Linked DNA regions of Homo sapiens: region 1 is linked to region 2. The links come from fine-mapping of genetic effects on gene expression. A gene starts in region 2. The other region holds a variant in brackets. All regions are shown on one strand. Distances are from middle to middle.

Region 1 (5,373 bases), 30 kb after region 2:
GAGCTTTACTCTCAGACACTGCAGCTTCATTATCTAATTCAGGCCCCAGAGCCACAAAAATGGTTAATCAAGGATGCTGTTACCTATTTCCACCAAGGGCAATGCATACTTCCTACTAACTTCCCACCGACTCCCTGGTTCCACCTTGCATGGTTGCTCAACAGGGAAGTATTAGATTCTCTTCTACACAGAGCTACATAAGGAGACTCAGGAGACATTTTTATTATAGTTAGCAAAGGGGCTACTTCTTGAAGAAAAGATCGTCTTCTAAAGAAACACCTGCTCAATCAACAGTTTAACGGATACAAAAAGTGTGTCTTTGCTCTCAGAAAGAAAGGTCCACATAAACCGGGTTACTCCCATCCTGAAGAACTGCTCATGCTCTGTGACAAGTTCCTCGTAAACAAAACAAAACAAAACCAGTTTTTTTTTCTGTTTCTGGAACTAGAATGGGGAAGCAAATGTAATGGGGATGCGCCACCTAGCGACGAGAGATGGAACTGTCACTCAACTAAGAAAAGGACTGTGCTTTAAACAGCAGCAAGTGATCACTGAAACCTTTCAGGTAAACTGAAATCAATAAATCATCTGCTGAATGAAATATGCAGATATTTTATAGCTTCTAGATATGATATGGTGGTTAACAGTCTTCTGGATAATACACACAAGTGTTTAAAAAGCAGTAACTCAGATACCCACATTTGAAAGAAAAAATGCTAAGTTTTTAAATGTTTCAAAAGCAAGCTTGAGTAAAAATCTTTTTGAATAACTGAGTTTTTTTTCCCCGATAAAGGGTCTATAACAGATCTATACTCAAAAACATTTATATATTTCCACTGTGTCAATAAACCAGCCAATTATGACTCTGTTAGAATGGAGTAATGCCCTGAAAGATAAAAATGTTATTCTTAACAATAAAGGTAAGTTGTAATGATTATTCAAGATTATATTTAATATAGAAAACAGGCCCACAGTATTTCTTAACTTGCAATTTTATTAATTTTTCAGTACTCTTACCTTTTATATACTACTAAGAAAATTTAAACCATAACTAGACATAAACATTCTGCAGTTTAATTCAAATTTTCATATATACAGACCAGACTACATATGTATTACACTGCAAAACTTACACATGACTGAAGCTGAGCCTAATAACTTCAATTAGCCAACAACAGAAACACTCCCACTTCCTGCAGTCACAGCAATTAGCTAACAATAAAAACACTCCCACTTCCTGCAGTCACAGCTGAAAGACTTTTCAAGGCAGACTACATTTGGGCTGGAGATACAAGTGATGTAGTTTGACTTGGGCAATACAAAACAAAAGTCATAGGAATTAAATGGATTTTCAATCACTGTATAATTCATTCTCCTGGCTTAAGTACGTTTTAATTTTTTCACAGAAAAAAATATATTTCAGGCAAATAAAAACAAATTCCAGATTAGCATAGTTCAGCGTTTCATTTATCTTACCTTTATCAAGGCAAACAAAGTACAGATGCTGTACATTAAAAACATAGAAATATATCACTCACACCACATCAACTCCTACGGACAAAAGGGCTTTTTCTAAGCCCTGCTCCTTTCTGAAGCACACACCACAGCTAAATGTACAAAGAGCCATCTGCTGGTCCAACATAGCCAACTCCAATGAGCAGGACGTCTATCAGCGTCCATATTCCCAGGCCACCGAAGCTGAAGAGCTTGCCGAGGCCTTCCCGCCACTGGCCCAGGTAGAAACGGTCTGCTCCAAACCCACCGAGGGTGATGCTGCGATGGCAAACAGACAGGATTCCATGAGACCACCTCCACCCCAGCTGTGGCCAGTCACGGTTTAATCACCACATTATGTCAGATTTGAGAAAGGGCTTCCCCTGATCGTAGCCCTTAACTGGAACACAAGTGACTATTTCACAAACTGACACCACCAAATAATTACGGGCAGGAAGACAGTTTAAATGTCAAAAGTAAACATACAATTTTTAGCTGTACTAAAAAACCAATGTTTTCTTTTTTTAAAGTTATCAATCTCATTGCTTTTTAGTCAAAATAAAGCAAAGACCCAGTCTAACAGGAAGTGCACTAACACGGGGTCAGGGCTGGAGTCAGGAGGAGCTCACCACCACCTGGACGACCTGGATCAAGTCATCCATGTTTTCAGTCTATTTTTTCATTCATCTCTAAAATCTTAATGTTAGGAATAAATCCTTAAAAGATTTAAGGATCTTTTAAATTCTAAGATCTAATAATACTGAAACTATATTATGGAAAATTTCTAAACACCTAACAATAAAAAGTAAAGAGAACAGTACCCATGACTCAGCTCCAATAATCAACACTTGGCCAGCTGTGTTTCATCAAAACCCTCCTCTTTCCCCTCCAGAGTACCCTGAAGCAAACCTTGGGCATCATCTCATTACAGTGATGATTTTAAAAGAAACCATGTTGCCGGGCGCGGTGGCTCACGCCTGTCATCCCAGCACTCTGGGAGGCTGAGGCAGGCGGATCACAAGGTCAGGAGATCCAGACCATCCTGGCTAACACGGTGAAACCCTGTCT[C/T]TATTAAAAATACAAAAAATTAGCCAGGCGTGGTGGCGGGCGCCTGTAGTCCCAGCTGCTCGGGAGGCTGAGGCAGGAGAATGGCGTGAACCTGGGAGGTGGAGCTTGCAGTAAGCCGAGATTGAGCCACTGCACTCCAGCCTGGGTGACAGAGAGAGACTCCGTTAAAAAAAAAAAAAAAAAAAAAAAGCAAAAAAAAAAAAAAACCATGTTGAGTGCTGAGAAGTTTTAATTGTTGAAAGTATGTTACAGTATAGTACTGTAAGAGGTTAACAATGTAGGGAAACCAGGTTAGGGGTATATAAGAACTCTACTATCTTTGCAACTTTTCTGTAAATTAAAATTATTCCAAGTTTCAAACATTTATTTATTTTTTTAAAAAGCCAGTTGTTAATTTGAACCATTGTCAGCAATGGTTACTAATCTTTTTTTTTGAGACAGAATCTCACTCTGTCACTGAGGCTGGAGTGCAGTGGTGCAATGCCAGCTCACTGCAGCCTCCTCCTCCTGGGCTCAAGTGATCTTCCCATTGCAGCCTACCACGCAGCTGGAACCACAGACATGAACCACGATGGCAGGCTTTTGTATTTTTGGTAGAGATGGGGTTTCACCATGTTGGCCAGGCTGGTCTTGAACTCCTGACCTCAAGCAATCCGCCAGCCTCGGCCTCCCAAAGCGCTGGGATTACAGGTGTGAGCCATCGCGCCCGCCCTATCTTATTTTTGTTAGTCTCATTTTCTATCCTGGCACCCTCTTTTACTTTTCAGTTACACTTTTCCTGCCAGGCAAGATCCTTCTTTCCTCAGCTCAAATTCTAATGCAGTGGTTCTCAGCAAGGGGCAATTTTGTCCCCTAGGGGACACCTGGCAACATCTGGAGACACACTGTCACAGCTGCAAGGGATGGGGGGTTTGCTACTGACAAGTAGTAGGTAGAGGCCAGTGATGCTGCTCAACACCCTGCTATGCACAGCACAGCCCCAAGACAAAAACTCATTCAGCCCAGAACGTCAGCAGTGATGAGGCTGAGAAATCCTGCCCTATGGCTGCAATGCTGCAGGCCTCAGGGTCTCAGGCACGAACTCAAAACTTCAAGTGTAGGCAGCGTAACCTTTTCACTAATCAGTTAACCAGGGTCTTACCTGCCCTTCCCTTTGGTGGGAAGAACTGCTATAATTTCTTAAAGTACTGTTGAGAAGTTTAACAAACAGCACATTTCTATGTAAGAAATATAAGCCTATAATTATCTGCTGCTGATGAAATTATAGGTAATTTTTAATGTTTTTGTCATTTTCATTTTTCCAGTTTTCAGTGTTCATCATGTATTACTTTTTATAATAGTTACTTAAAATTAAAGATATACATCATAAAACTGCCTATTTTGGATAGTCCACAGCATTTTACTGATTCGTGGTACATTCAGAATGGTAAACGTAATGTGCAGGCATCTTGGGAGAAAAGCTAACATGCCTGCCAGTCAACTCCACGGAGGTACTGGTCTGATCATCTAAACTCTTCCAGCTGTTTGCTAGAGTCTAACACACGTGGTAGGATCTGAGTGAAGAATGAAGGGGACTGAGCTCAATGTCTGAAGATTCCACCAATCCCAAAGAAATGCAAACGGCCTTTTACACTTACGAGTAACAAGGCTTACCTTAGAGCCAGAGCCGTAGACCACTTATAGCCTCCAGTCCAATTGCAATATAGCATTTTGGGAAAAGTACGGTTACCTTAAAAAAAAAAAAGAAAGAAAAATACAGGGTATAAAAAATACTCTCAGAAAGACTTAATTGTAACAAATGGGCTCAAAATTTAAAATGTGAAAAGTCAACTCTCTTTACGGTAATACATGTTGAAGTGAAGAGTACAAAGCGCTTACCATCTATCTACATAGATGTAATATTTAAATCAGCTAAGTTAGGATTACAACGTGAGGAACATGAAATGCTCACCCACATATCAAGACCTACGGGGAAGTTACGAGTATATAAGACAGTGTAGTCTTGAGGCATAAAAATCACCCAATAGGAAAAGAAGAGAAAGTCAAGAACCAGAAATATACAAACACTTCATGTATGAGTGTTATGACAGAGGTCACACACGGATCAACAGGGAAGAGTTGAGACAACTGGCCATCCATGTGGGGGGACAATTAAAGTAGAATCTACCTCACACCATCTACCAGGACCAATTCCAGGTGGATTCTAAACCTAAATGTGAAATGTTATACTTACAACTTTCAAAAGAAAATGTAGCAAATTGTCTTTATTAACCTGGGGTAGAAAAAGATTTCTTAAAACCACCACAAAAAAGGACTAACTCTAATAACTTCCAGTAATTATATTTTTAAAGTTCTGTTCATGAAAATATACAATAATGCAAAAAAAAAAAAAATCAAAATCTGGGAGAGGGTTTCAGGGACAGCACAGGTAATATCCAAAATATAAAAGAAGTCTAGACAACTTTAAGACCAAATTTAAGAATAACCACTCTTGGAGAGAATATGGCTCATCAGGAACAGTTACATAGCGCGGGTGGGAATGCCAGTCAATACAGCCATTTAAAGAATGACACACGCTGGAAAGTACATGCTGAAGAAGCTCTTGCACCTGTGCCATTGGGAGACAGGCAAAGAAATTTGAACAGTCACAACAGCGGAAAACAGCACTTAACCAAATATATTGGAGAATAAACTGTGATACAATCTTACAATAGATTATTACACAGAAGTAAAAAAAAGAAGAGAAGTCACGTGGATGAATCCTAGAGCCACAATGTTTAGGAAATAAGCAAGTCCCAGAAGAGCACACAG
Region 2 (5,373 bases):
GGCCGAGGTGGGTGGATCACAAAGTCAGGAGATCGAGACCATCCTGGCCAACATGGTGAAACCCTGTCTCTACTAAAATACAAAAGATTAGCCGGGCATGGTGGTGAGCACCTGTACTCGGGAGGCTGAGGCAGGGGAATTGCTTGAACCCGGGAGGCGGAGGTTGCAGTGAGCAGAGATTGCACTACTGCACTCCAGCCTGGCCAAAGAGCAAGACTCCATCTCAAAAAAAAAAAAAAAGGTAGATGAGAGAAGAATAAAGCATAAAGCTAAGGTCTAACTTGCTAGGTTATTCAGGAGGGAGAGAGGACAGAAATTACAAATAAATATTGATATGTATACATACACCCGTACTGTAGATAGGTGTATGTGTATATATGTGCAAATGACTGTATATTATGCATACACATGTGTGTATGTGTGTGTGCACATGGTATAAATGTGTGTATATGTACATATGTATTTATACACACATGTATCAACTCCCATAAATGCACAAGGCTCAGCCTGACCTGTCATTTAACCAAACACCAGACAGTGCCTTCCCAGAACATTCTACCCTCAAGGCAGAGTGCCTCCGTGACACGCAAGGCAGGGGGCCAGCTGCAGGCGCCAGGCCAACAGGATGAATGTCTCAGGTTTTCACGCCCCTGGTGGCAGGGCAGGCCACTGTGGGCCTGCTCTCTTCTCATCTTGCTGTCACTTTAGTGTCCTTGAGGTGCTGAGGACTCTCAGTTTGTATGTCCAGCCCAACAGCTCCTGGGCTCTAGACCCAGAGACTCAGCACTGCTCGATACGGGTCCCGGGCCCACAAGTCCCCTCTACCATCCTCCTCCCACTGTGCATCCAGAAGCCTGGGTGCTCCCGGACACCCCTGCTCCCCACATGCCCATCTCCCACCGTCTGCTTGGTTTTCACTCCTAAACAGTCCTTGGGTGCAGCCACTTGTCGGCATCACCACCACCCTGGGTCATACCCACTCTCGCTCTCCAGTGAGTGCAGCCAGGCTGCTGTTTGCAGGACTTAACTCTCATCCCACCAGCTGTGGCTGCCCAGCTCCTAAAGCAACACTAGGGCCCTGGGTGGGGCCTGCAAAGGCTGCGAACCCAACGCAGCTCCCCCTCTCCTAGCCCGGAGCTGGTTCCTCCTCTGTCCTCCAATGCCCCAGCCTCCTCTCTGCGTGACTGCTATATTACCACCTGACCCCTGCTCCCCGGGGCAGGGACTTTCTTAGAAGAGACTCTCCAGACAGCCAAGCACAATTGGAAGCAGCACCTGCTCAGATCTTCCAAACTGAGGCTTGGTGAGGCCTCCATTGGGAGCACTTCATTGACAAACGTTTGAAATTCTGAAGATGACCTCCGTGGGTGCTGGGGAGGGGACCTGGGGCTTGGCTGAGGCCCTGGCCCTGGTGAGTGAGGCCCTCCGGCTGGGCACCTCTGGATATTGGCTGGGAGGGCACCCAGGGCCGGTTGAGGCCGCAGCTTGCTTTTCGGCCTCTCCTTGCTGCTCCCTCCCCACATGGCCTTGGGCAGGTGACTGCTAATGTCGGTGACCAGGCCAGGCTGCCGCCACCCCCACCCCATTTCCCAAGCCTGGCTGCTGGTGGCAGGGTCTGGTAGAAGTGCTGTGGCCTCCACGCAGGCATCCCTCTCCATGGGATCTCCATGGAAGAGCGTGTGCTGGTGCCTGGGTGTCGGGACCCCATAAAAACCACGGGTGACCCCTGTGCAGGGGCTGGGGCTGCTGGGACTGTGGATGGTCCCCCTAAGCCCCATGAGGCACATTTCCCAGGCATGGCAGCATGGCGGTACCTCTCTGGGGCTGTCCCTTGTGCATGCACTCTTACTCCAGCAGTCTCTGGTCCCTCTACCTTTCTCTAGTGGCCCTCGGGCTGAGAAACCATGAGAGTGTGTCCAAAGCAGGCAGCGGCCTTAAAGAAATGCCAGCCCACCTCCTCCCCACCTAGTGTCCAAAAGAGCTGCATGTTGGAAGCAGGGGTCTGTGCAGCCCTCCCCTCTCCCCTGGTACACCCTACTTGGGGAGCAGATTTGCCTGGGCAGGTCTGCACGGGGTCTGCTCCCTGGCCCAGCAGTCACTGGTGAGACACCCAGCCCTGGCATCCTCTGTTCCTAATTCCCATGAAGGTGCCTTTTGTGGCTGCACCTACTTGCATAAGGACTGAGGCATCGGCCAGGAAAAGACGTCAGGCTTGGCCAGCTCCATCTAGCAAGACACTCCAGGTCACCGGGGAAAGGGCTTTTCACTAAAGCCTCCAGGGAGACTTTGGAACATGAGCAGCACAGCTTGGAGACGAGCCAGCAGAGCACGTGACAGCGAGGAGGCAGCCGTGCACGTCGTCACCCAAGCCCCAGGCCACAGCATCCACGGGAGAGACTTTCCTGCAGCACTGCGTGTTGGGGGTAGGGAAGAGAACAAACTTAATCCTGGGCTGTTACGGGAAGCCCTGACGAGCCCCAGGAATATCAGGGACTGCAGGAAGGGTTCCAGTGTCACTGGGGAACCCGGATTCCCACAAATGCCTTGCTTCCCACAACCCGGCCTCCTGGTCCCACATGCCTCACCTGTTGTTCCAGCCTCTGCACCTGCTCACATCTCTGGGGAGTCACCCGATGGGGCTCCCCAGTCCCCGCAGCAGCATTTTCCTCTGACTCTCAGGGCCCTGCTCTGCCTTCTGTGCTCAGCAGTTGTTTCGGATTGGGAGTCAGGAGGCCATTCCCACACTTGAAACAAGGCTGCAAGAGGAGGCTGAGCAGAAACCGCACACCCCGAGGGCAAGGCGACATGCTCATTGCCCTTGCGCCCTTCCTCCTTCCCCAGGAGCAGGACTTCTGGCCGCTCTGAGTGCACGGGTGACGGCTGCCGTTTATCAGCCTTCAAATTTGTGCCCGAATCACCTGCTTCCAACTCCTCAAATACAGACTGGCTTAGCTCAGCCTGATTAAGACCAAATTAGGAAGGGCAGCTGTGTTCCACCAGAGCCCAGGGAGCCAGGCAGAGGGCAGGAGGATCAGGCCACCAAAGGTCACCTACACACAAGCCCGTACCGGTGATGTCATCGTGGATGGAGGAGATGGGCTGGCATTTTTTAAGGCTGGCCCCCTGCCTGGGACACACTCTACATGTTTCTAAGCCTATGGGCCACTGGGGAGAGCTGGAAGGAGCCAGGCACAGCCACAGGGAGGTGCCACCATGCTTGGGAAACACCTCGTGGGTCTGGGCTGCAAATGACCATCCACAGTCCCAGCCCTGGCAAAGGGGTAGCTCATGGTCCTTATGGGGTCCCGACACCCAGGCACCAGGACACGCTCTTCCACGGATGCAGGTTAGATAAGAAACCACCTTCAGGACTCTCCTACACATCTCTTCACACCTGTGCACAAAGGAATCAGCAAAAGATCCCCTCCCAGCCTGCTGTGACCGCAAAATTCCATACCCAAGACCAGGGCTGCTTAAATAATTTGAGCTCTGCAATGGAAACCTACAAAGCCACTAAAAGCAGCAGAGAACGCTGGTGAGCAGCTGTGAGTGGCAGCTGAGATTCATTACAGTTCCACAGTCGGACTCGGGAAAATGCTTCCGTGTGTGTAGCAGGCTGTGATGCGGTGTGTGGTCCCAGCTGAGGCCCCCACACTGACAGCAGTAAGAGCCGAGTATCTCACATCCTAAAGATGCCGGTCCGTGCCCGAGAGCAGATAGTCTATGAGACCTTAACCGGGGCTGTCCCAGATGCCACTCTGAGCCCTTCTGGAAGGGTGAGTTTGATCAGGGAGATGGCGAGGGAGGAGTCCTTGTCCAGGAGCTTTGGGGACAGTTTGACAGGAGCTTTTGGGATGTCAACCTTGCTCCTACCATGGGGAATGCAGAAGGGGGCTCCCCCCCCCACCTCTCCTCACATCTGCTCCACCTCAGCCCAGATCAGAGGCAGGGAGGAGAGCCTTGAGGAGCCCCGGAGTTGGGTGCACTGACTGGACCCCGCCCTGAGTAGAAGAGGGAGGCTGGCCTGGAGGGGCTGCAGGAGAACAGCAGAGTTGCTCAGCAGGACAAAGGAGACACTGCGGAAGGGGTCTGAGTTCAGGTCATCTTGACTGGTTTCCTCAGCACGGCCCATCATGAGGCAAAACCCTAAACGCTGACTCAAAGTCTGGGAACGGAATGGGCTGTTTTGTCCTTGGCTAGAGCCCTGCCAGCTGTCCCGTTCCCTCTAAGTGCTGCATGCACTGTGGACGTGGCATTCCCTCTAAGTACTGCATGCACTGTGGATGTGGCCTGCCCTCTAAGTGCCGCATGCACTGTGGACGTGGCATTCCCTCTAAGTGCTGCATGCACTGTGGACATAGTGTTCCCTCTGCCTGGTCCTCCTATGTGAAATCCCCTTCCCAGCCAGCCAGCGCCCCCACCTGCACTCCTGGCCCCACCCTTGAGGTCCTTTCTGGGGTGGCTGAGCTCTTCTGCAAGACCTGTGTCCGGGCTTCCCTCCACCACAGCTCAGACCCTCCCAGGGGCCCATGTCCATGTCGGTAGAATGCATGAGGGACGCCCAAGCCCATTCGGTCCCAGATGCCTCCTTCGAGGCAGGGCCGTGTGTGTGTCATCAGCATCACACACTCACACACACTCACCCGCAGGCAAAGCCCCTCCCTGAGCCCAGGAAGGCTCCAAAAGGGGCGTGGTCACAGCCTCCTGCGCCTTCAGGGGCGGGAACCCAGAGGAAGAGCAGCCCACGTGCGGACTCCGCAGGAATGAATGGACACAGTTGGGAGGAGAGGGGAGTTTCTTGGAAGTAAATTCCCCCTGACATTGAGATAACTGGTTCAGGGTCCCATCCACAGAGTACGTGCCTGTTAGCAGGGCAGGAGGCCAGAGGGCGGGGCCTCGGGAAAGCTGCCCAAGCTCAGCAGGGACTCCACTGCTCACAGAGCAAGCAGCCCGACTTGTTCAGCTTGGAATCTGGGCTGGGACCGCTGGGGTCAGCAAAGAAGATCTAGGAGACATCCCATAAAATATCAGACTATCAGGATCCAATATAATACGTGTGATATTGAGCTCATTGCACAGAAGCTACAAGTAAACATTGGGTTTAGGCCACTCAGGGAAAAATGACGGAGCCTCATTTCCATAAGGAGCTGGCCTCATTTGAAAGCTTTCCACCCCACCTCTCGCCTCACCTCCCCCGCGCTCCTTTCTTGCTTCATAAACTTTCACCACTGCCATCGACCAAAAAGCAAACAGAGACTTGGAAACCCCGTGTACAACACGTACACTGCGCTCTCGTTGATCACTATTGGGTAAACTAAAATGTAGCTTACCACCCAGGGGAGGCGTGATGTGTGGGTGTGTGTGTGCACGTGT

What was found. PIP is the estimated chance that this variant, and not a neighbour inherited with it, causes the effect.
Region 1: its variant is fine-mapped to the expression of LINC02348 in tibial artery (GTEx, PIP 0.99).

The regions. Positions count from the first base shown.
Region 1 is chr15:101,640,872-101,646,244 of GRCh38, forward strand. TM2D3 (TM2 domain containing 3) reads right to left here. Exons shown (of 6, transcript NM_078474.3): 5 at 4,216-4,291; 6 at 977-1,773. The coding sequence ends at 1,608. Among named protein-coding and RNA genes, the nearest start is that of TM2D3, 8.8 kb to the right of the region's middle. RefSeq lists a silencer at 412-571. The variant C/T (reference allele first, on the strand shown) is at 2,563.
Region 2 is chr15:101,611,365-101,616,737 of GRCh38, forward strand. LINC02348 (long intergenic non-protein coding RNA 2348) reads right to left here and starts at 2,975. Exons shown (of 3, transcript NR_147041.1): 1 at 2,586-2,975; 2 at 2,171-2,410. RefSeq lists enhancers at 966-1,466, 2,285-2,803, 2,804-3,320.